6 separate regions of the Homo sapiens genome follow, and regions 1, 2, 3, 4 and 5 are each linked to region 6. Evidence: fine-mapped expression QTL. A gene starts in region 6. Each other region holds a variant in brackets. All regions are shown on one strand. Distances are from middle to middle.

Region 1 (4,083 bases), 280 kb before region 6:
CCGGGCACCCGGATGTTTCCTGGCGGGAACCGGATCCTGCCTGGGTGGGGGTGGGAGTGGGCGTGGGGGTGGGGGTGGGGGTGAGGGTGGAATGGCTGGGCGGATGGGCATCAGGGTTGAGGGATGGGGTGGGGGATGTGGGGTGGGGGTTGGAATGACAATGAAGAGGGGGTTGGGTCACGGGAGTGAGCATTGGAGTGGGGGTTGGGTCACGGGAGTGGGGTCTTAGGGACCCTCAGCCCTCCTTGAGAATCCTGAGCATGATGTCTGGCAGAGCCTGGACGCTGCCCTCTCCTAAGCAGCCCTTCCCTGATCACACGAGCTCTGACTTCAGAGTCCCCAGTGGTTTAAGCAGCAAGGGGGCTGGGGGTGGCCCAGCCTGAGAAGTCCACCACCAGATGGTCCAGGACTGGCATGAAGGGATTATTTGGGGTCCTCTATCTGGGGTAAGTGGGTCCTCAGTCCTCCCTCAGCATGTCACCTTGCCTCCTTACAGAGCCTGGGCCCGCTTCCCTCCACCGATCTCAAGCCGCCCCTCAGACCGAAAACCTCGCTTCTCTCTAACCACTAATGCTCAAGTCAGTGGCGTCACATCTGGGCACCTGGGCTTCCCTGGGTTGAGAGCAGGGGTGGAACCGGATTCTGCCTGGCTTGGGCTGGGGGTGAGCGTGAAGATGTTTGGATGGGTGGCGTAAAGGGAGGGATTGGGGGTGGTAGGGGGAGGGATGCCAGTGGTGCCCCGGGGCTTAAGTCGTCGTGTTGGTGGTAGTGGGGTTGGGCGTGGGGTTGGGGGACCCTCGGTCACCCCTCAGGGTCCTGACTTTCATGCCTGGCAGAATCTGGACACCCATATTCTCTGCCGATTGTGTCTGCTTCTCTCCCACCAAGTCTCTGGCCCCCAGTCCCATGAGGTGGCAATGGGAGGGGGGGTGTGGTCGTGGTAACATTGCCAGGGTCTTCCAGGGCTGACAGGAGGGGCTGAGCTGCATTCTGTGGCCCATCTACGTCGGGAGAGTGGACCCTCTGTCCCCACTCAGGAAGGTCCTCCTCCCGGCTCCTGGCACTTTGTTGAAGTCATGGGCGGGAGATGCTGTTTCTGCCATCTCTGAGCATTTGCCCAGCTGCACCCATTGCAGAGAATGGCTGCAGGTCCCAGGCCAGGTGCTCCCTGCAGAGTGGCAGCTCCCGCGATTGTAGTGACCTCTGGGAGAAGACGCACACCTTCCCACGGGGGCTTCTCTCCAGCCAGAGCTACACTTGGCAAACCTTTTGTCCTCAAAGTAATATGTTTTACTCCCAGGCACGGTGGTTCACGCCTGTAATCCCAACAGTTTGAGAGGCCGAGGCGGGCAGATCACTTGAGGTCAGGGGTTCAAGACCAGCCTGGCCAACATGGTGAAACCCCGTCTCTACACAAAATACAAAAATTAGCTGGGTGTGGTAGTGCTCAGGAGGCTGAGGCGTGAGAATCGCTTGCACCTGGAGGCGGAGTTTGCAGTGAGGCGAGATCGTGCCATTGAACTCTAGCGTGGGCCTCGCGACAGAGTGACACTCTGTCTCAAAAAATTTAAAAAATGAAAAAGAAATACACTTTTCGTATCTTCCAAGGATATATGTAGGTAGCTGTATATATATATGTATTTATTTCTAGGAAAGAATACCTACCAGTAGTATGCATGATTCACTCTTATATCCTATTCTACTTCTTTTCCATTCTTTACGTTCTGTTGAAATAATTTTTTTTGAAACACAATTTCTCACCCACTATGTTGGTGTCTGGTTGTTATTAGTGGAACTCTTGATCCATACTGTCTTAACCAGCCCTGTTTAACTGGTGTCCTGCTGTTGCCCTAGGGCTACTAGCATCATGTTTTGAGGAGCTGCCTCAGACTGTGTAATGATGTGAAGTGGAAATTTGAAAACTTTCATTGTAACCATTTTGTCAACTGCAGTCTAGGCAGGGTACAGACCTCCCCAGTATCCCTGCTGCCACCCCCCCTCCAACCGAGACTGCAAGTGTCAAACACAATTACCAGTTCAACCATCTTCAGCATCACCCAGGGCTTTCTCTATTTTGTTGCTTAGACTTTGTTGCTGATATTGTGTCTTTCTCCTTCTTTTTCCCTTCTATAATTTTCCAGGGTTGATTTGTGAAGCAGAGAACAGCAGCCCAAATTTGATTGTCACGTTGGCAGCCACAGGTAAGACATAATTTGTACATAATTGTACATAATTGAAGCACATTTGACATTTTTACAGTGTTCTCTTTCTCATCAATGAATATGCTATGCTCCTCTATAATATGTGTGTGTGAGTGTGTGTATATATATATATATATA[T/G]ATAGAGAGAGAGAGAGAGAGAGAGAAAGATGGCATCTCCCTCTGTCTACCAGGCTGGAGTGCAGTGGCACTATCTCGGCTCACTGTAATCTCCACCTCCCAAGTTCAAGTGATTCTCCTACCTTAGCCTACTGAGTAGCTGGGATTACAGGTGCATGGCACCATACCCAGCTAATTTTTGTATTTTTAGTAGAGATGGGGTTTCAACATATTGGCCAGGTGTGTCTGGAACTCCTGACCTCAGGTGATCTGCCCGCCTCAGCCTCCCAAAATACTGGGATTACAGGCATGAGCCATCGCACCCAGCCTCATGTATTAATTTCAAACTCCTTTTACTTGAATCTGTCAGTATACTGTGATTGTTGCCTCTATAAAGACCTTCTGCATTTTTACTAGGCTTCTTTTCAGGTAATTCTTGGATTTTGATGCTATTGAAAAAGGCATATTGTATATTAAGTGTTCTAGTTACTGATTGCTTTCATCTGGCAAAGATTTTGATTTTGCTATTATAATCTGTTGTATACCTCATTCTGAAGGCCCATTCACTTGAATCTTCCACATGCCTACTCCTTTGAATTTTCAAGACTGATCATGTTATCACTAAACATTATATATTTTTTCCACTATTCATACTCCTTATTTATGTTGATATTTATAGCTCTGACTTTGTGTCTCAATACTGATTTAAAAGCTGGAGATAATACCTTACATCTAATTATTTTTCCTCTCTTTAATAATAAGTCCTCGAACATTTAGCATTTATGTATGTTTGCTGTTGATTTTAGTAAATGGAAATTCTCTTTCAAAAGAAGTTAACTAAATATGTTTACTTTGAACTCATATTGAATTTCCTTCAAAAGCTTTTCCTATACCCAGTGATATGAGCACTTATCTTTTTCTTCTCCATTTTGTATGTAAGGAATTACAATGAAATACGTTTCTTTTTTGTAACAATAAATCATATTTTCTTTCCTTGGGCAGAGCCTGTTTGTTCATTTAATATGCTACTAACTTATGTAGGATATGTGGTGTTATGTATGAGAGCTTCCTTGATGTGTTTTTGTCCATGGGTGGGGGTGGTCCTCATCTGGTTTTTGTATCCAAGAGGGCAAGTCTGGGAGAAGGAATTGAACGATAGTCTATATTTTGTATGCCTTGGAAGAGTTGAGGTAAGATGGTAGTTAGTTTTTCCTGATCATTTTGTTCAATCGGCCTCCAAGACTGCCTAGACTGGAACATTTGAGGGTGGCTTGAGCTATGAATATTGTACCATTTCTGTTTGTATAGTTTAAGTTTTCTTTTCCTTTTTGGACCAATTTGGAAATGTATTTATTTTATTTCTGCAAAGTGTTCAGTTTCACATAGGATTTCACTTTAAACGGTGTGAAATTTGCGATAAAAACTTTTTCTTAGGGAGCGCCTCAAAAACCTTGAATAATAGAATAACATAATGAAACCAGAACACCTGTCACTCAGCATCAACAACCTTCAATACATGTCATATCTGGTTCCAGTTTGAGGCTCACCTACTTGTATCTCAGCTGCTGGAATAATGTGGAGCAAATCTAAGACATCATTCCATTTCATCTCTAAATACTTCAATATGTTTTTCTAAAAGTTAAGAACTTTATGTTAACTAAAATCCCAATACAGTTTTCATTTCTAAAAAAATTAAATAAATGGTTATCAGATGTTTAACTGATTTACACACTTATCTGGCAGACTTACACTTTGTAAAAGTATG
Region 2 (4,085 bases), 640 kb before region 6:
AGGAGAGGGTACACAGGAGAAAGCCAAAGCAGCCACAGGTCGCTGGTGAGTCTGCCAACGTCCCAGCCCACAGCATGGTGCCACCCACTCCCCTCCACGCTCTTCTTCCCTCCAGATGACAAAGTAAGGAGCCAAAGTCTCCCCACACTGAAAGCATCCAGGCCACGGCCCTGGCCCCACTCTGCCGAGCATCGCAAAGTTGTCATCCCTCTCCCTGTCCCCGTCACCTTACCCAAGGATCCGCTAGGGCCCAGGCTGCCCCTTCTGCAGCCATCACAGTGTTTGGCGGGGCCCACTGCAGCTCCTCTCTCTCCGCTCCTTCCCGGCCCGAGCTAAGCCTGTCACATCCTCATGGAACTGAAATGGCCTCAGTGCACATGGCCTGGCCTTGACATCAGCCAAGAGCCCTCCTGGCAGCTCAGCAGGGCCCTGAACCCCCGTCTCTGGGGAAGCTCCTGGCTCAGAAGCATCCGTTGGAAACGAGTGGCCCAGAGCCCTGAAGAAAGGGGAGAAAGCCCTCAGGCAGCCAAAGCAGACACGGCCAAGTCCATGGCCTTATTCTCAGGAGAGGCCCTGGTGGATACTTCACGAAACATCCATCCACAGTGACCCATGTTTGAAAAGCGTGGGCACCTGCGCGTTTACTCTCGCGACACATTGCACATGAAGCAGCCTTCACTTCTGGGAGATGTGGGGACAAAATGATGGCCATGTGCCTGTGCCGTCCTCTCTCCCCACCTCTCCCCGCCCTGTCTTGCAGTTGGTCACCTGACACATATTCACCGAGCAGCTACTACATGCCTGGCACTGGCTTGATGTGCTGGGACAGGTGCTCAACAAGTTTCAACTAACCCCGTCCCTCTCTAGCTGGGACAGGGAGAACAGCAGGCCCGAGGGCCAAGAGCTGTGGGGTTGCAGCTGGGGCAAAGGTGAGGCAAGGCGTCTGGGGACAGGCATTGGGGGGAAAAGACTAGAAGGAGTGAAAGCTGAGGAGAGGGGGCCAGGACAGCAAGCGAAGCTGTCCCAGGTGAGGCGGGCTCCTTCTGGGGGTGCTGTGTGGACGAATTGCCCTTGCTTTTCTGATGCGGGAAACTGAGGCTGGCTTGGGGAAGTGGCAGAGCCAGAGGACAGCTGGGTGTCCCACTTCTGACCCCTCAAGGCAGCAATGGCAGCTTTCGGCTCTCACCTGGACTCCTCGTCTTCTCGAGACAGCCTCCCCTCCCCACCCCAGGACCTTTGCTTGTGACGGTGCACCTGCCAGGGCGCCTTCTCCCTGCCTTCCTGAGCTCCAGTCACCTCATGCCTCAACAATCCCACCATGTAGCAACTTTGTGCCACTGTCAGGTTCAGGCTCTGTGCCCCCAGCGGGTGACAGAGTGAATGGCTTGTGTGGTAGGCTCTTGGGTGGCACACGGCCATGACAGAAATGCTTGTTCCTCAGAGCAGGGGTTCCTCGTGGCACGGTCACCGAGGCCTGGTGGCCCTCCCCTGGCATGTGCTCATCCTCCCTCCTCTGACCATGGCATACCCAAGGCCAGCTCTGTCCTCCCCCACCCGGTCCCTGCCCCTGACCCCACAGCGGTGGCCCAGACAGAACCATACCAGGTCGTACAGCTGCTCCTGACTGGTGCAGCCATGGCTGTGTCTGACTGGACCCACAGTGACTCATGGGGAGGGCAGTGGGCAAGGAGGCAGTCCTCCCCTCTGCCATGGTCCCGGGGCCAACTTCCTTCTCCTCGGCTGGCCCTGCTGGCCCTCCCCACTGCAGGATCCCCACCCCTCAGCAAGCAAGCTCCACGTCCTGTGGACCACCTCTTAGGTCTCTCTCTAGTCCAGCAACTGGTCATGACCCTGCTGTGAGTCACCACTTTCCTGGTTCAGGCACCATCACTCCAGCGAGCCCCTGTTTCAGTCTCCCATCCCCATCAAGCAAAAGGCCAGATTCCTTCTGAGCACTTCCCAGCCCCACTCCCACCCCAGCCACACAGCCCTGCCAGCTCTGAGCCCCGACCGCACGCCCTCTGTTCCAGCTCCACCTGCTGACCTCCGATGAATCCTCTTAGTCACAATTCAAGTGGAACATTCTCCAGGAGTCTCTGCCAGTTCCCCAGCCAAAACTGATTGCGCCTGAGTCTATAATCCCGCGACCCATTCCTATTTCACTCTGCTTGGCGCTGCGATGATCTGTGAGCTTGTCTCCCACCAGCTGGGCCCTAAGCTCTTTGAGACACGTGGTATGGAGTCGGCAGGAAGTCTACCGCGTGGTCAGTCCCGCATGTGGCCGGGGGCCTGGAGGAATGAGTGAATGGGGGCCTGGCCCACAGGGGAGGAACTTGGAGTCCTGGGAGGTGGAGTCTCCATCCTGGAGGACAGGGTGGGGTCGGGGTGCTCTGCTAACCCTCACTGTCTTCATGAATGCAACAGGCTATAGGGCAGACAGGATCCATCAGTTAGAGTAAGGCCCATTTAGAGCGACTGTTGGCTGCTGTGCAGACCAAATGGCATATACTTTGCTTTTCTGGGTTCTATATAAGCCTGGGCG[G/C]TGGCCTCCCTGAGGCCCAATAAAGACAGCAGCCATCGCCGAGATGGCCAAGAACCGAAGTGACTAGGCCTATCAGTTCTGCAGGCCTGACAGAGTTTCCGGCCTGGGCTGGCTGCCGAGAATGGTCTGTAGGCACCAAAAGGGCAGGGAACATACCATTTCTGTGCTCTTTCATCTTTCTGACCTTAATTGGCTTCATTGAAATGAGAACCTCCACAGAGGGGGCCTCGCACCTTCCGGCATTTGCACCATCCCCGCACAGACTGGCCGGCCTCGTGGTGGGAGACAGCCAGGGGGGTCCCTGGCTGCTGCCTCCAGGGGCTGCTGGAGGGGATGGCCCAAGTCCAGGCCCATTACTCAACCGCCTTCTGGACTCTTCTCTTCAGCAGGGCCCAGAGACCCTCACCTCCCAACTAGGCTCAGAGTGCCTACTCCCCACCCAGTGACTCAAACCCACCTGACCAGAGACCCAGGGGTCCTCTTTCCCCTATGTTGTCCCTCCCTGGCTTTGGGGGCTCTGCTGGCACCTCCAGCTTAGTCCCCCATGGACTTCCTCCAGGCCCTGGGCAGCCCAGCATGCTCCAGAAGGCTCGGCACTTTCTAAGTAGGGGGCACCCCCGCTCCCATGGGGCCCCTCTCAGGACCCCATGGCACACACTGAGTTTTGAGCCCACATCTGCATGCCAGCTCTTGACAGACATGTTTCTTTCACTGCACCCTTGGAAACACCCTACGAGGGCCAGGAGAACTCTCCCTGCCTTACAGAGGGGGAAACTGAGGCTCAGGAAGCCTCCTGCTTTTGCCCTGGTTCTCCCAGCCCTGCCTTCCATGTGACTTGAGGTGGGTCATGGCCGCCCTTGCTGGGACGCTCTGATGACACCCCTGAAAGCCTCCCCAGCAGGCCCAGGCTGCATTCCACTCGGCCACCTGCTCCGCCTTTATGGAGGAGAGAACAGATGGAGGGCGAGATCCCACCACCGTCCTCCAGATCTCAGGTGATGCACGCATCGGGATTCACGCCATTCTCTTTCCTGAAAACAGCCCCACTGCACCCCAGTCGAGCACCCCTTCAGTTTCTGGGGTCTGCGTGGACATATATCCCCACAGGGATGATGGGGCATGTACTGCCAGGAAGTCCCAGCTCCCGAGTCACTCCCTAGTCACTGGACCCTCAGTGATGAGAACATGCGGCTCCTGGGCATTCAGACCATCTGGAAGCCAGAGCCAGGCCCAGGATGCCGTGGCCCCGAAGCAAGAAGGAAGCAGAACTCAGGGGCAGAGGGCAGGAGGTGGACGCCTGGGGGCCTACCTGGGCACATGCCCTCCACCGTGGGCCCTCCTGAAGGCAGACTGTCCGTCACCTGCTCCCTACAGACCCACCAAGCAAGGGCCCGCCTTTCAGAAGGGCCCATCACTCAGCGACGTGACTCACTACGGGGATTCCTTAAAACAATAGTCCCCCATCTCTCTCCACCTCCAGGCTCCTAGAACACAGGCCAGGCCCGGCAGAACCCAGAGAGGAAAAGCAAGCCAAGGCAACAGC
Region 3 (4,085 bases), 21 kb before region 6:
GCTTTGGGCAGAGCCCGTGGGCAGGTGACATCAAGACCGCTCTACCTCAGAGGGTCCTGGGCCCTCTCCATTCCCGGCACTTCACTGTCCCTGGTGGTAGCCGCCAGACCTCTCCATTTTCTAGAAAGTACATCTGAGAATCTGAGAAGGCTCAGCTAGGAAGGCCCTTGGGGGTGATCTCTCCACCCACCCTTTCATCAGCCAGAGAAGGCTGGAGCTCTGAGGAGAGGAGAGCTGTCCTAGAGCCTGGAGCCAGTTGGTGGCAACTCACCCAGTGCTCTTCTTGGCCGCTGACAGGACGTAGGAGTGCTCCCGGGGAGCTGTCCTCCTCAGAACACCGCTTGCAGCCTCTGACCTGGGGTGACACGGGATGGGGGAGCATCTGATGGGTGCCAAGCTGGACATGCTCTGCCAGCCTAGCCTGGGATGGACTCGGGGTGACTTAGGGCCACCCCAGGGAGGCAAGGGGTGAGAGAAACCAGATTTGCACCTGCTCCAAGGACTATTCAAAGGAAATGTAGAACCTGAAGGAAGGGCAGCCCATGTTTATGGAGCATGTGGCATGTGCCCGGCTCTGCGCCAGATGCCAACATCCTCGCATTGGCTTATTGCTCTTCTCAATCCAGGAAAGTAGACGCTAGTATCCTCTGTGATTTACAGATGAGGAAACTGAGTCCAAGAAGCTTTCATTATTTGCCCAAGAGCACTCACCTAGCAGGTGGCAGAGCTGGCATTCAATGCTAGGCAGCTCCTAGCTTCTGGCTCTTTTCCTTGCTCCACCCAGGCCTGGGGGCCCCTGCCACTGTGAACTGTTCCCTGAGGATAGCCAATCTGCCAGGGCCTTTGGCAATGGGGCTTTGCTGTGATTCCTGCGCCACAGATGGGTCAGCAGATATGGACCTGGTGGCTGGCTGAGCCCAGGGAGGGGAGGGCTTTATTTCCTCAGGGCCCAACTGCTGTACAGGCCCCAAGCCAAAGGCATACAAAAGGTGCTTAACAAACCCTTCCTGTCATAGTTCACCAGCACTGGGTGGTATGTGGTCAGTCCCCATGGACAGAGGACTGAGGAGGGGCAAGGGTCCATGGAACTTTGCTGGCCTGTGTGGACGAGGGCAGCTTGGCGCAGAGACTAGGGTAGAATTTCAGCAGCATGGGGCACACTCCCACTGCTGTGCATGCCTGGAGCTCAGTTTGGGGTCCGGGGCATTCAGAACCCCCAAGGCATGCAGATCATGCAGATAGAGGGCACTGTGCAGGTGGCTTCTCCCTGAATATTTTTGTTCAACTGTCTCAGGGCCCTTTCTAACAAACCGATTTAGAGCCCTGAAGAGCCTCCACATGAGGAGGCTTTTCCCCGGACCCACATTACCTAGGTTCTACCCCACAGAAGGTTCTCAAGGGCCCCTCAGCTGGTCCAACACTGAGTGGGTGGTTCTGGCACTCAGAGAATGACACCTATTCTCATGCTCCGTGGGCTACCGCTGATGGCCTACGTGTTGTGCATTTTGTCACCCCAACCAGTACAATTCATTCCAGCAGTCTTCGAAGACTCAGGCTCCTGCCCTGCCCCCCGGGATGCCCAAAAGGCACCATTCCATTACCTCCGTTTCTGTTCATCTGAGGAGAATGGCACCACCTCCTCCTCCTCCTCCTCCTCGGTGTCCCCTGATGTAGAGCTGCGCCTGATATTGTAGGGTGCCCTAAGAGAGGGGAGAGGCGCTTTCCTGTCATAGGCTGCCACCCTCAGCAGCTTGGCTTCCTGGCTTTCAACAACAATGACGA[G/A]GCAAGTCAATATCTCTGCCTTTGGGCCTTAGGTCATGCCACTTGTTCCTCCCTGAGACCAGCTCTCCCCTCCCTCCCTGTTCGAGCCTCTCCCCTTCCCCAGAAAGGTTACCCAGCAGCTCCCCAACCCTGGATGATGGAGGCAAGGGACAAACAACGGAAAGATGTGGTCCCCTGGGAACTAGAGACACAATTCACACCTCTGTCCAGAGAACCCTCCTCCCTGAGCATGCAGTGGGGGGTGGGGGGCTTTGAAAGGGACCCCAAGGGGAGCACTAAGGGAAAACCCGAAGGTTTCTATCCAAGAAGCAGCTCAGATTTAGGCACACAATGCTCAGACTGACAGCAGCACCCTGAGGATCCCCAGGCCCCCAGCCCAGTGCAGCCAGGCAGAGCACCTGAGGCTCGGCCGGGTGCAGGGCCAAGCCCAGGAAGCACAGCCAGCCAGCAGCAGCCTCACGACCCATGACCCTTTCCCCAGATCCGTGGGGCCCCTCCTACAAGCTTCCTGCGGTCTCCGCTCTGCCTCGGATCAGACGTGCAATGTGCACAGCCATCCAGTTTTCTGGGGCTTGTTACCCTCTGGTGGGCTCCAGGCCACAGCTGCAACTGGCAGGGAGTGTCAGGCAGGCGGGACTTCCCGGGCTGTGCTCGGTGGCAAGTAGTCAGCTGCCTTCAGTGGACCCAGAGTTTGGACTTGTTCCTTGGAGGAGGGAACCACGCTGAGCCTGGCGTTGCATACTCACAGCTTCTTGTAATCCTCAGTGGTCATCTTGTAGCCAGAGGAGGAGGGGCGGGGAGGACCAGCGTTAGCTGTTCTCACCAGACTGGCAGCACTAGAGAGGAGAAGGTTCCATGTGTCTACCTGCAGGCTCCCTCCTGCCTCCAGATTTGGCCACACAGCCCAGTGGACACATGAGAGGTGGACCAGGAGCTGCCTGGGAGCCTTTCCTCTTTGCTTTTGGCCCTGACAGACACCCGGAACTGCGCCACTCAGAGCAGCTGTGTAGGCAAACCCCACCGAGCTTCAGGGAACAGCCCAGCGGGCTCTTGCCTGTGTCTTTGCTTCCTGTTTCCGGGTCCCCTTGGCCTTTCCAGTCTGACGGAGTCCCAGGCAATGCCTGATGCCAAGGTGCTTGAATTGCATGCAACTTCAGCCTTCTCAATGCCATCAGCAAGTCAAGTCAAGGGTGCCCACTGCCAGGCTAGGGGGACTCTACACCCAGCCCCTCCCAAACTCCTGCACCTCTCTGTCCCATTAGCCAGGCCTAGTCAGGACTGACCCCAGGACAAGGACACTGTTAGTGGCCCAGGACCTCCCAGAGACCCACACATCCACTTGGGACTGCCAGTCCCACCCCAGCCCATCTCCTCTGGTCACCCCACCCTGCTCTCCAGGGTCCTGCCCTACCCAGGATGAAAGCTGGCACCTCCAAGGCCCCACAGTCCTGATAGGCAGAGCACTGTCTCTGCCAGGAGCCCAGACCAGGCCCTCACACCTCCCCACTGGCCGACTGGCCAACACCCCATGGACATACCTTTTTGGAGTCCCGTTGGCCTTGGGGAACTGCTGCTGGGGCTGGGAAGAGCTGTCTATGGGCTTGGTGAACACTCCCCTGAAAGAGAGCCCAGGAGATGCCGGTGAGCTCCCTGGAGGGACTGGAGGGGTAAGAAGTCAGGGCTTGGCGTGAGTGGGCACAGGAAGGCCGGCAGAGTCCTGCGGTCACTTACCGGATGATGTAGCCAGTGGGAGCCCTTGTGCTCGGAGGCCTGCCGAAGAGAAGAAGGGGTGGAGTGAAGCGAGGCTTGCTGGAGGGCTGAGGTCATCCTACTTTATCCTGCCCTTAACGATAGCAAATAAGATTGGCTGGCAAGTGCTCCAGGTGTCCCAGTACAGCAGAAACGAGGGGTGCCAGCCCCCTGTGCCCCTGATCAGGTGCCCGCTATGCTCTGCCTATTTCCCTCATGCTCCCCCAGGAAAAGTGCCCCAGGTGACTCCTCATGGCAGGTGCCTAGGAAGGCAGCTTGATGGCCTCTCCAAAGTCCAGCTTCTCCTTGGCCAGCCAGTTCCCAGTGCTGCGCCGACGGAGCACTGCTCTCAGCTGACAGCCCTCCCATCCTCTGTGCTTGGGGCTGAACCAGTGCAAGCTGGAGGCTCCCCAGTCAGAGCCAGAGGCTTCCCCTCAGCCCGGGGTCTGACCTGATCTCCCTCAACAGCCTCCACCAGGAAGGTGCATGAGGGCTTGAAGGGGAGAGCCCAGGCAGCAGCCAGCCGAAGCCAGCTGTCCCCCTTCCTGTCCCTC
Region 4 (4,085 bases), 66 kb before region 6:
CTTCATCTCTACTAAAATACAAAAACTAGCTGGGCATGGTGGTGGGCGCCTGTAATCCCAGCTACTAGGGAGGCTAAGGCAGGAGAATTGCCTGAACCCAGGAGGCAGAGGTTGTGGTGAGCTGAGATGGCGCCACTGCACTCCAGCCTGGGCAACAGAGCAAGACTCCATCTCAAAAAAAAATTAATTAAAATTAATTAACTAATTAATTAAAATTAAAAAGCAAAGCCACACATGTATCAGGAACTGCAGTCACATGTGTGTTCAAATGAGGCAGCCTGGCATGACAGAAAAGAACATGAGGGCAGAAGAGAAGAGCTCTGTGATCTGAAAAGAAATAGGATGAGCTAGTTGGTCCCTAGGGCTCTGCCAGCTCTGTCAAGAGGGGTGTTCTCAGCATTTTACAAAATAAAATAACAAAGACAAGCAGAACAGAATGGCAGTGAAAATGGTGTGCAGGATGAATTCACCGGAAGGGAGAACCCAAAGGTGCCCAGTTCAGTAGAAAATGCATCAATCCCATCAGAGGGCAACTACATCACTCATCCACTCGACAATTACCCCGAAGCTACTCTGAGCCAAGTCCTGGACAAGGAACTGGAAATGCAGGGATGAGAATATGGGAGCCGGCAGGAGAAGGCCGACATGGAAGGGTTTGGGACCCGCTCTTACTTGCTATAGCGTGCAGATACTGGCTTCCCAGAAGACACTTCACTAGCATTCACGTACTCCTTCACGAAGAGAATCCCTTTGCTGTAGAAGGAGCACAGAAGAAATCAGAGGTACACCAGAAGATTCCAGGGAACCAGGCCTGGCCCACAGGAGTGGTTCAGGGCTGGGGAGACCCAGCCTGGTTTGAAGGAAGTGAAAGAGCTCATGGGAAGGCCCAGGATAAAGGCACTGGCACTGCTGTGGACTCAGACTACAATCCCAGGCCATGAGCGTCTCTTGTTGTGTTTGGACTGAGGGCCCCAGAAAGGGGCTTCCTGCAACCAATGACAATGTGCTGTCCTCCTCCATGCAGACCTCGGTGACCCCATCTTCTCCCCAGGCTTCTATACTTCTACACTTCAGTCCTGTGGGCTTTCCACCCCTACTTTAGGGCTGCGTCGTCTTTCCCCTCTACCCACAACCAAGATATCCTCCAAGCCTTAATCCTACACTGTCAGTCTTTACCACTCAGCACTTCCCAGAAGGTACTCAGCTACTGTGCAATCTCCACCTCACATCTAACCTCTCCATTCTCACTCCTAGAGTCCAGAGGCCTAGAGGTTGCCTCATCCTGGACTGGCCTCTGCAGGACTGGAAACAAGGTCTGCATCATGCTGGGCTCAGGATGGCCCCAAATTTTCCCCCATTTCCATGCTGCACACTCCAGCCTGCTGACCTGATGTCTGCAGAGGCCCCCTTGGATATGCCCCCCTCCCGCCCCCAACACACACACCTCACTGAGCAGCCTTCCTGCAGTGACATCCCTTCCTGCACCCTGACAGGTGGCCAGGAATGCAGGTGAAGCAGTGGGCATGTGACAGAGACAGACAAACCTCATGTTGAAATGTGATTCCCAGTGTTGGAGGTGGGGCTTGGAGGGAGGTGACGGGATCATGGGGGGATCCCTCATGAACAGCTAGCACCATCCCCTTAGTGAAAAGTGAGTTCTCATTCAGTTAGTTCACACAAGATCTGGTTGTTTCAAAGTCCGGGCCCTCCCCTTCCTCACTCTTGTTCCTGCTCGTGCCATGTGATGGTCCTGCTCCCACTTCGGCTTCCACCATGATTATAAGCTTCCCGAGGCCTTTGCCAGAAGCCAAGCAGCTGCTGGTGCCATGCTTGTGCAGCCTGCCAAACTGTGAGCCAATTAAACCTCTTTCCTTTATAAATGTCCCAGCCTCAGGTATTCCTTTACAGTAACACAGGAATGCCCTCACAGGCCCGGCCTTCACGGACTGGAGCTGGCTTCCCAGGCATGGACCCATGAATGGCAGAGCCACATCCACTAGTGCACTAGGAAGTACCACTGCAGCCTCTTACAGAGATAGGAAAAAGGAGGTGTGGGAATGTCTAGGCCCGGTAGATGGGAGTTTATATTAGGGGACTAACACTGTCCTGTGTGGCCCCTTGGCTAATGGCCTGCTAGAAACTGGGGAAGGCACTAAATGGGAAGCAACATGGAACAAAAGCCAAGTCCTTTACCGCCAAGGAGGAAGTGG[C/T]GGAGGAACATCTCCCAGGTTGCTAGATAGCCCTTCTTACGTGGTAGAGCTGGAGTCCAATTCACTTGCGGGGGCTGGAATATAAATGTGAGGCTGCTCAGATGTGGCAGTGACAGTAACAGTGACCATGCAGCTCGAGGGGCTCCTCACCCTGAAAGAAATAAAGGGAGGGGTGGGCACGTCAACCTGGGAGCTGACACCTTCCAGGGTCAAACAGGCTTTTCTGAGCCTAACCCTTGAGCACTGCTCTTGAAGCTTCCTCCAAGACCAACAAATGGAACTTCTCACTTTACAGATAAGCAAACCCAGGCTAGGTGAGTTGAGACATGTCCCAGGTCACATCGTGAGTCAGTAGCAAGACCCCAATCTTCCAGTGTCCACTCAGTACTCCTGACTGCAGCCAAGGGCCTTGGCCTCTGTGATTCACTCAGTTAGAGTGGAATCATGGGGCTCCCGGGGATGTGACAGTCAGGAGGGTGCAGAAGGGGAAGACACAGCCCAGCTCACCTCCTCACTGGATGGGACGGTCCCTTACTAGGATCAGCTCCTTCTGCCACCCTGCAGGGAACTCTCTAGAGAACACAAGGCCAAGGGGCAGAGGACCAAATGAAATTAGGCATCATTGAGGAGGAAAGTCAGATGCACCTCATTCCCAGCAGAGGCGGGAAACTGACCGGTGTCGAAGTTTTTCTGAACCTCCACACTTCAGCTGCCAGATATGGCCCTTGGCCTGGAATCCAACCTCCTCGGCAGCCCAAAAGGGCTTTTCTCTGGCCAAGCCAATATCGGCTCTCACTCTGCCTGCCCCCAGGCTATGAGCCTCATTACCAAAGCTGCCGTAGCTGTCAACTGCAGTTCAGGGCACGATGTTGGGCAGCACCACTGACCACTTGTTTGCACCTTCCAACTTAAGTCTGCTCACCCTCCAAAGGCCTGAGGCCAGCACTATGGGTGCACACTGCCCTGGGCTGATTCTGGCTTTTCTCCAACATGCTGTGGCTCAGATCATACTCCAGATATGGCTGCCTCCATCTGGCCCAGGCTACTGGGTATTGTCCCCTTGCCAGAGAATCCAATGCCTAAGATTACAACTAGTTGAAGAGTGGGGAAAGGGAAGAACAATCATGGTCTAGCATCTGCCTAGCTCTCTCGCCTCATAGTCTCAAACTGTATCACGTGCCACTCAAGCCGTACAGACCAGCCTGCAGTTCCCCTGGACTTCCAGGCTCTCATATGCCTTTGCAGACAATATCACCTCCTCTGGGAAGCCCTTCCTGAGGGCCTGCCCTCCTACCTCACCTCAGTGTACCCAATCATCCTGTACCTGTTCCTGCTTCACCCTATGACAAAGAAATATACCATAGAGACTGGAGAAGGTGGACTGGATGGGAGAGGAGGCCCCACAAAAATCTGAAAAGATACACGGGGGATAAAATGCAGAGCCAACAAGTGAGAAAAGGATTGATTCTAAGAGGAAGGAAGGAAGACCTCCTACTGACTGAACAACTACCAGGTGTCTGGTATCCTGTGATCCATGTCAGCAGAATACTGAAGGGGACGGCGCAACTGAAGAGGCAAGGTAAAACAGAAATTCCCTGGAGCTACTTGGGAAGCTGAGGCAGGAAGATCACTTGAGGCCAGGAATTCAAAAACAACCTGGGTAACACAGTGAAACACCGCCTCTTAAAAAAAAGAAAAAATGCCCTGGGCATCCCCCCAGGACTGCAATGTGAGCAATAGGAGCCCTCCCAATAGCCTCCTCTCCCTCACCTACAAGACCCTACAGGGCCCAGCTCCTGCCCCCTGCTCACCTCACCCCGTACCCTCCAAGCACAGGGCTCATTGTTCAGGCCCTCCTCCCTATCTTCTTTGTCC
Region 5 (4,085 bases), 38 kb before region 6:
GAGTTCCTGGAGGGCAGAGGTGTTTCTGATTTGTCTGCATGCTCCAGCCTCCAGCAAAAGGCAGTTGCTGTCAGAGTGGTTGCTGACTGAAAGACCCTTTCTGACTATGATGTATTTCCTGGCCAAGGCAACAGTTTAGTGGAAAGCTCCCTGGCCCCAGAAGCCAGAGGGTTCTGGTTGGGGCTTCTGCCCTTGCTATGTGCCTCAGGCCAGCTCACAAACCTTGCTGGCCTCACCTTCCCAGCCAAAGGCCAATGGACACACAGCCCAAGCTGCCTCTCTCCACCCCAGAAGTTCAGCACTGTCTGCTCATGCCTTACCCCTTTGGGTCTGCCTTTGCATCCTCCTGGGCTGCTGTGCTGTTGCTCTTCCTATCAGCAGGGACAGCAGAGACTGAAGTGGCACTGGAGCTGAGGAAGGAAACACAGGCCTGCTGAGATCTCAGACCAAAGAAGGCTGGGGCCCAGGTCTTCCCCCTCCAGGCTGCCTTCTCACCAGAAAGGGAGGAACTGTGTCTTCCAGTAAAGGCTGGTGTCTCAGTCCTGGCATTAGTGTGGCACCGATGCCACTGTGTGTGACAACCTCATGTCAGCTTTGGACATGGCCTTAGCACCTGAGTTCAAGAGCAAACACTGCCCCTGACCAACTTGGGTTCCCTGGGGAAGTCTCCTGGTTTTGGGTTCTAGTATCCTGTAAGGTACCTGGATGTGCTTTGTTCAAGGAATAGGCAGAGGGGGATATCCAGGCCTGCATGACTCAATGAGTCTGGTGCACAGGTGCACACCTCCACTTCTTATATAACCTGTTTATGTAAGTTCATACTTGGCTCTAAACCACTATTGTCTGTAAAAGGTATAACTGCCCTGTTGACGCTGTGTATGGGGGACATGTCTCTTGGGGCTTGGCTCAGCTCAACATAGCTTGACATGGCGGGTGCACGGGAACCTAGAGAAAGAGAGAGAGCAAGAGCTGTCTGTCTTTGCAGGTGGACAGAGGGGAGCCAGGACAGAGGGGAGCCAGGACACAGCTTGGCTTGCCCGTGCCCAGGGAGAGAAAGAATTAAGCTGCTGACCCTGAAGGCAAGGGAGAGCTGGCCACGCAGCTGTGCGTAGGGGCCACCGGACTAAGCAGCCAAGACAGGGCAGACGGTGTGAGAGTAAGCTGCTAATGAGAAAGCTAGTTTGAGAAAGCTGTGTAAGAGAGCTGCTGCTGAGTAAAGCCATGTCTCATTTACCTGCTATCTCTCGAGTGTTCTTCCAGCTCCCTGCCCCACGTCCACCCATTCCCCTTAGCCCTCAGCTGCGGCTGGAACCTGACCCTGAGCATGACGTATCCTTACCTGACCTACACCTCTGTAGGGTTTATGGGAGTTAAGAAAGATCGTTCCTTACTAGGACTTGCCAAATGCTCCACACACCCACAGCAAAGTGGCCATGCCCACTGGTGGATTGGTGGGTGAAACAGGGCAGACGCTTACAGCATGGGAATGCACAGCTTCTTCCCATTGTACCTTTGTGCCCCAGGAGCCATTTTTGCCCATCCCAGCCACCGGTCCTGTGCTCCTGGGAACTGAGCCCTCTAATGCTGGCTGCCCCTGGGAATCTTCTCCCTGACTCCTGCTTGCTAAACCTGGCTGTAGTCCCTACAGCAGAGGTTCTCTGAGACCTCCTAGCAGGATCTCTTCCCAGGCTCTGCCTTCAGATGCCCTCCTCTCTGCCACCTCAGCTTGGGTCCATGTAGGTTGGTGCTGGGCTCTCTGGGTGAGCAGACATATCACCCATCCCTCTTCTTCCACTGCCCCTGGTCAG[A/G]GCTCCCCCTGGAGTTCCCTGTCTTGCTGTGATCACCTGATGTGAAAGTGGCATGGAGCTGAGAAGTTCGAGGGGGATCCTGGGGTGCTGCAGCTGAGGCTGGGCCCCAAAGGCTGTGTCTGGCAATGGGATAGGGCACTAGGGCAGTGGCCCTAACCTTACCTGATGGCTGCTGGTCTAGGCTTGCAGGACTGAGAGTTGGCACTGTGCCCATCCTGGTCTTCCAGGAAAGAGGCAAAGCTAGCAGCTGCACACAGCCTGTGAAAGAAGGCCAGACCTGGTCCAGGTTCAGGACTTTGTGTCTGTATGTCTACCCTCTCCCGAGAAAGTGGATCCTGCCCCCCACAGATGATGAGGACCAAGAAGCTGCTCAAATGGATGCTTGAGGAACAATATTTATATCTCAAGGCAGCCTGACACCTGGGGCTCTGTGGCATAGTGGTTGCCCTCTGGCGTTGCAAATCATGGCTTTGCTATCTCCCAGCTGTGTGACATTGGGCATGTTACCTGACCTTTTTTTCTGGGCCTCAGTTTTACCATCAATGAAATAGGGATGCTAATCATGTCTGTCTCGTAAGTATTCTGAGAAAAGTAAATGAGTTCATAGATGCCAAGTACTTTGAATAATGCCTGGGCCATAACATGTGCTAATGTGTTCCTGTTACCACAGGGCCCAGTGGCTGTTTATAGAAGCAGTGCACCTTCCCAGTCCACCTGTATTCACCCACTCAATATGGATTTAGTGGGGAATGTCTTACCCAACCTTCTCAGGGTGGAGTCACATTCTCTGTGTCTCTGTAAACCAGGCAGACTGATGCTCACGGCATGCTGAACAATCACTGCCTATACAAGCCTGTGCCCTCCACTAACCAGCACACTCACTAAGAGGTGCTCTTGTTTGGTCCCAGACCTCTTTATGCCAGTTGTATTTGCACAAGAAGGGGACAGCAGACCCTGGCCTCTGAAACCAATGTCTCTGAGCAGATCCAAGGAAAGGCCCCTGGGGCAGCAACTCAGTTCTTTGAGCTGCCACTAATGGAGAAGAATCACTAAGTTCGATGATTAAGTAAATCCATGAAAATGAATGGAAAAGGAGAGTGGTTGTTGCCATGAGAAACAACCTTTCCTTTGGAAAAACAAGGCAGGACGCGATGGCTCACGCCTGTAATCCCAGCACTTTGGGAGGCTGAGGCGGGTGGATCACGAGTTCAGGAGATCGAGACCATCCTGGCTAACACGGTGAAACCCCGTCTCTACTAAAAAATACAAAAAATTAGCCGGGCGTGGTGGCGGGCGCCTGTAGTCCCAGCTACTTGGGAGGCTGAGGCAGGACAATGGCATGAACTCAGGAGGCGGAGCTTGCAGTGAGCCGAGATCGCACCAGTGCACTCCAGCCTGGGGGACAGAGCAAGAGTCCGTCTCAAAAAAAAAAAAAAAGGAAAAACAATAAAGGAGTTTGTTGAAAATTATAGTCAAACTAAGTGTGGTCAGCCCTCTATGTTGTGGGTTCCACATCTGTGGATTCAACCAACTTCAGATTGAAAATATTTGGGACCAGGTACAGTGGCTCATGCCTGTAATCCCAGCACTTTGGGAGGCTGAGGTCGGTGGACTGCTTGAGCCCAGGAGTTCCAAACCAGCCTGGGCAACCTGGTAAAACCTCGTCTCTACCAAAAATACAAAAGTTAGCCAGGCGTGGTGGTCCACGCCTGTAGTCCCAGCTACTTGGGAGGCTGATGTGGGAGGATCCCTTGAGCCCCAGAGGTTGAGGCTGCTGTGAGCTGTGATCACAGCACTGCACTCCAGCCCTGGTGACAGAGCAAGGTCCTGTCTGAAAAAGGAGAGGAGAGGAGAGGAGAGGATGAGATGAGATGTGGGAAAAATAATTAAAATAGGATGGCTGCATCTGTACTGACCATGTACAGGCTTTTTTCTGTCATCATTCCCTAAACAATACAGTATAACAACTATTTACATACCACTTACATTGTATGAGGTATTATAATAATCTAGAGATGCTTTAAAGGGTACAGGAGGATGTGCATAGGTTACATGCAAATGCTACACCATTTTATATCAGGGACTTCAACATGCATGGATTTTGGTATATGAGTGAGGTTCTGGAACCAATCCCCCACAGATACCTAGGGACTACTATATAGGTAAGACAACTGTAAAAGACTGGGTTAAAATTCATGAAAATCTAGAAGATTCTTCAGATGACTTTACAAGTAACTTTGAGGCTTGGTTTCATTTTAAGGAAACAGTGGACAGCAC
Region 6 (4,085 bases):
CTGAGCAGGAAGTGAGGTGGACAAGCACTGCTGCCATTTGGATTCAGATGGCAACTTCTTACTGACAGATGGCCTCTCTGTCACTCCTCAGGGCAAGGCATGGAGCTGATTTCTCTGTGGGCCCCCATATGCAGGAGCTCAGCAAGAAGTGGTTTATGATCTTTCAGGAGTAACGGGGAGGTTAGACTCCAGCAGCTCCAAAGGACGTGCGGGCCTTGACCTGGTGGCTGCCGAGCTCCTCCTCCTGCTTCCAAGCCCTTCGCCTCCAGGAAGCCTTCCCTGATCTTCCCAGCCAGGGGTGCCTCGCTGCTCCAGGACTGAGGAACCCCTAATGTTTTCATGCTACTCGGAGCTGCAACATCCTAAGTGGTCCTGGGCCACCTCTGTTGCTTGAGTCATGAGTGTCCAGAGGATGGAAATGAACAGATCTTGAGCACCTGCTGCGTGTCTGGCCCTGCACTGAGTGCCTTCCATCAGCTCCACACGGCTGAATGCACAGCATCCAGCCAGGGGCTGGGAATTGCTGGAAGGAGGGGCAGGTGAGAGGGATCTGTTCCTTCCCATCCTGAAGTGGCCTGGGAGCGATGAGGGGAACAGCGGAGGCACCAAGGCCTGCCAGAAGGCTGGCCCCTCATCTGTGCATCTGTGTCTTGGCCACTTGCTGGCCTCTGAGCTGCCCCTTGTTTTTCAGATGAGGAGCGGAGGCCCTGGGAAGGCAGGACCTCTGCAGCTCTGTTCAGGCCTATCAACCTGTGCACCCCTGCCTCCCGCCCCCAGCCAGGTACGACAGCCAGAAGTCTGAAGGGCCATGAGACCAAGGCAGGACTTAGTCCAGGTACTGAAGCCTCAAGCACTGCTGGATGGGGTGTGAGAGGCCCTCTCTCGGGGCTCACAGCTTTGGGGCCTCCCATGATGCCAAGGCTTCGTGCCGACGGCTCAGCAAGAACACAACTCCTACCATGCCTCAGATGTCCCAAAGCCGGGACACACCCACCACCTACTTTATCTGAGTCCCCAGCAGCCCTGGGTGGGAGGCAGCTTGACGTGTCACCCCCTTAAACCGACAGAGTACCCAGGTGTCCCCAGCTCAGAAGTGGCAGATCAGGCAGGAGCACCTGAGCTTTCGGCCTTTTTGTAAGGCAAGGTATCCCTCTGCCTTTCCAAAGAGGACAGACTCTTGGCTCCCTCTGCCCCCATCAAAACAATCCAGCCACAGAGCTGGTGCAGTGCCGATCCTGTCGATAACACCCAGTGACACCTGATTCGGCGCCTTCTGTCTGAGTGTGAGCAGCCACCATCCTCATGGCCCTCCCCAAGATTGCCCTGTACCCAGCACATGCACCTCACAGGCCCCAGGGCGATTGAGGGGATCCTCTGGGTGAGCCAGCCTCTGGGTCTCAGTTTCCTCATCTATAAAATGGGCACAGGGGGACGGAGGGATATGAGATTCCCTGATTCTTAAAGGCCTGCAGTCAACTCTCAGAGCATCCTGGCCCCTCGCCGTTTACTAACAATTAAACCGTGTCTTTCCTAAAGGGCAAGACAGAGGGATCAGGCTGGCAAGGGGGACACTTGCCTCTGTAGGGGACGCTGGCCTCCTCTGCCTGTCAGTCTTTTCACTCACAGCGAAAACCAGAAATCCACTGACTCCCGGGGGGAACCCGAAGAGAGATGCTTGGAGCTGGTAAGGGTTATGGATGGGGAAACTGAGGCCCTGACTTGTCCCCAGCTGGGCACGGACTGGGTGCCCCCCACTGCCTCCAAGCAGGGCCGCATCCAATGGCGACTCGACAGCCCTACCTGGCACCGGTGCCCGGCTCGTGGGGCGGGTGGAGGGTCGGGCAGTCGCAGGGCGCGGGCTCCCTCGGGTGGACGGCGCCCGGCCGGGCCGGGCCGGGCCGGGGAGGCAGGCGCGGGGCGCGGGGCGCGGTGCACAGCGGGGAGCGCGCAGGGAGGCGAGGAGGCGCGGACTGGGCTCCGCCCGCAGGAGAACAAACAGGTTTTCTCCGGCCGCCCGGAGCCTCGCCCCTCGCCCCTCCCCTCGGCCGGCCCCTTCCTCTGCCCCTCCTGGGGTAGGTAGAGGCGCCTGGCACATTCCGCACATTCTCCCGCCAGCGTCCTCCGCCCGCCCGCCCCTTCTCGGCCCCGCCCCGCGGGGCTGCTGGAGAAATCAAGTCTGGGGCTCCCCTTGTCGAGCACGGGGCGAGCTCCAGAAGGCTCTGCCGTGATGGAAAACTTCCAGGCAAATTCCTCCGGGCCCGTGGCCCCCAGGCCGGGAAGCCTCCGCCACGTGAAGGGCCCCCGCTCCTAGTTGCGCGATCTGGCCCCGGCACAGGGCCAACGACTTCCACAGATGCTGTCGGGTTAATTCAGTCGAGAACTACCGTTCCTAGATCCATTTTACAGATGGAGATCCCAGACAGGGGCGGGGAGGGGGGCGGGGGGCTGGCGGCTGAGATCATCCAGGAAGTCCTGCAGGCAGGAAAGGAGGAGAAGAGTGAGGGAGCCGCTCATCGTGGAAGGCCATCCTGGGACGGACCCGGGGCTCACAAGGCACAGCAAACGGGGCTATCTCCCAGGCTGGGCGACGAGATACAGCCAGACTCCCAGAGCCAATGCGGTTTGATGTACCTGTGTCACGCGTTGGTGCTCACCGAGTGCTTTATTGTGTGCAAGGCCCTGGGCTGGGGCTAAGGATGGAGAGAGCATGGAGGAAAGACCCCTCACCCCACGGCCTCCCAAACAGGGAGACAATTAAGCCAGCCCAAGAAATGGCATGGACTTGGCCAGGAGTTGGCCTACCAGGGTGGTAGGCTCAAAAGAATGGACCAGCTGCTTCTCCTTCATCAAGGCCTGCCAATGTGGTGTTTCCATGGCCCTCCAGTCCACCCACTTCTCCCTGTGCCTGCTGCCACCACCCTAGTCCAGACCTGGCCCCGAAGACCAGCCTCCTTGCTGGTGTCCCCCTGCCTCTGGTCTTGCCTTCCTTTCCCTCAGTCTCTACACGGAGGTCAGGTTAAAAGTTCACGTGTGTCAATATGATCAGGTGCTCTCCTGCTTGCAACTCCTCCATGGCTTCCCATTGCTCTCAGGGTAAAAGCCAGACTCCTTGAGACGACCTATCCCTGCAGGTCCAGCCACTCTTCCCTTTGTTCAATACATTACAGCCACACTGGCCTTTTTCCATTGCCTTCTGAATACATCACATGGCGCTCACCTTGGGGTGTTTGCTCCTGCTCCTCGGACTCCCTAAAATGCTCTTCATCCCCGTCGGGCTAGTGAGCTCTTAGTCATTCTTCAAGCCTCCACCCAGTGTCCGGAAAGCCTCCCCTGCCTGCCACCCAGTCGAGCTGATCACTTCCTTCTGTGCACCCCTTAGTTCCCTCAGATGACATCAATCCAGCATAGTGGCTGTCACCCTCTATTGTTCTAGATCCTGAGCTCTGGGAGGGCAGGGCCCCTTCTGATTCATCACTGGGTCACGGAGACCAGCACAGGGCATCCGAAGAATTTGCAGAAGGAAGTGATGGATGGGTGAGTGAGGCTGTGGAAGCTGTCCTCATCCTTTTCTTCTTGGGGTTCATGAGATAGGGAGAAGGCGACCCTGTGTGTGCTTAGGGGGTTGTATATAAAGTCACTTCTGTTCATGTCCGTCTCTTGCCAACAAGCATTTTTCTGCTTCCAATATTGTATGCCCCTGTCTGGTGGCCAGCAACTAACACCTCCCCTCCTCCACTGTGGCTACTGGTGGCCATGGATTTGGCTTGGCATCTTACCTCCTAAACATGTTTACTGTATGACTTAGGCTGTGTCATACTCTTTGTCTGGGTCCCAGTCCTCTTCAAGAGCCCCTAGTTTGAAAGGGTAGAAGGTAGAAGACATCATGATGGGTGAGATGTAGGGCAAGGAAGAGGGAAAAGGCAAACTTGTTCAAGAGCCCTGAGTCAGGGGTGGGGGGCCCAGCTGGAGAGCATGAGCAAATGTGGTGTCCAACGGCACGGCCAGCAAGTGAGGACTGCCCCAGGCTGGGCCGCCCCAGGGCCTCAAGCTCTTCCCATGTCCCAGGTGACTCAGTCTCTGCCCAG

Which allele goes with the higher level. Alleles are on the strand shown, and positions count from the first base shown. SD is a standard deviation of normalised expression in the study named. Not every link is listed here.
As copies of G replace C in region 2, the expression in pancreas of the gene that starts at base 1,972 in region 6 goes up (large effect, 0.90 SD a copy in GTEx).

What was found. PIP is the estimated chance that this variant, and not a neighbour inherited with it, causes the effect.
Region 1: its variant is fine-mapped to the expression of ZNF185 in skeletal muscle (FUSION, PIP 0.95).
Region 2: its variant is fine-mapped to the expression of ZNF185 in pancreas (GTEx, PIP above 0.99).
Region 3: its variant is fine-mapped to the expression of ZNF185 in whole blood (TOPMed, PIP above 0.99).
Region 4: its variant is fine-mapped to the expression of ZNF185 in whole blood (TOPMed, PIP above 0.99).
Region 5: its variant is fine-mapped to the expression of ZNF185 in whole blood (TOPMed, PIP above 0.99).

The regions. Positions count from the first base shown.
Region 1 is chrX:153,175,169-153,179,251 of GRCh38, reverse strand. No RefSeq gene overlaps it. Among named protein-coding and RNA genes, the nearest start is that of MAGEA1, 2.1 kb to the left of the region's middle. The variant T/G (reference allele first, on the strand shown) is at 2,340.
Region 2 is chrX:153,531,334-153,535,418 of GRCh38, reverse strand. All of the region lies in intron 2 of ATP2B3 (ATPase plasma membrane Ca2+ transporting 3), which reads right to left. Among named protein-coding and RNA genes, the nearest start is that of ATP2B3, 16 kb to the right of the region's middle. The variant G/C (reference allele first, on the strand shown) is at 2,543.
Region 3 is chrX:152,916,598-152,920,682 of GRCh38, reverse strand. It overlaps ZNF185 (zinc finger protein 185 with LIM domain), which reads right to left. Exons shown (of 25, transcript NM_001395254.1): 5 at 3,514-3,552; 6 at 3,321-3,398; 7 at 2,529-2,618; 8 at 1,602-1,700; 9 at 272-355. Among named protein-coding and RNA genes, the nearest start is that of ZNF185, 21 kb to the right of the region's middle. The variant G/A (reference allele first, on the strand shown) is at 1,783.
Region 4 is chrX:152,962,115-152,966,199 of GRCh38, reverse strand. It overlaps ZNF185 (zinc finger protein 185 with LIM domain), which reads right to left. Exons shown (of 25, transcript NM_001395254.1): 20 at 2,251-2,361; 21 at 673-753. Among named protein-coding and RNA genes, the nearest start is that of PNMA5, 30 kb to the left of the region's middle. The variant C/T (reference allele first, on the strand shown) is at 2,211.
Region 5 is chrX:152,934,399-152,938,483 of GRCh38, reverse strand. ZNF185 (zinc finger protein 185 with LIM domain) reads right to left here. Exons shown (of 25, transcript NM_001395254.1): 16 at 1,971-2,066; 17 at 321-410. The region is part of intron 1 of LOC105373372 (a long non-coding RNA gene); the gene reads left to right. Among named protein-coding and RNA genes, the nearest start is that of ZNF185, 38 kb to the right of the region's middle. The variant A/G (reference allele first, on the strand shown) is at 1,809.
Region 6 is chrX:152,895,954-152,900,038 of GRCh38, reverse strand. ZNF185 (zinc finger protein 185 with LIM domain) reads right to left here and starts at 1,972. Exons shown (of 25, transcript NM_001395254.1): 1 at 1,801-1,972. RefSeq lists an enhancer at 2,220-2,720.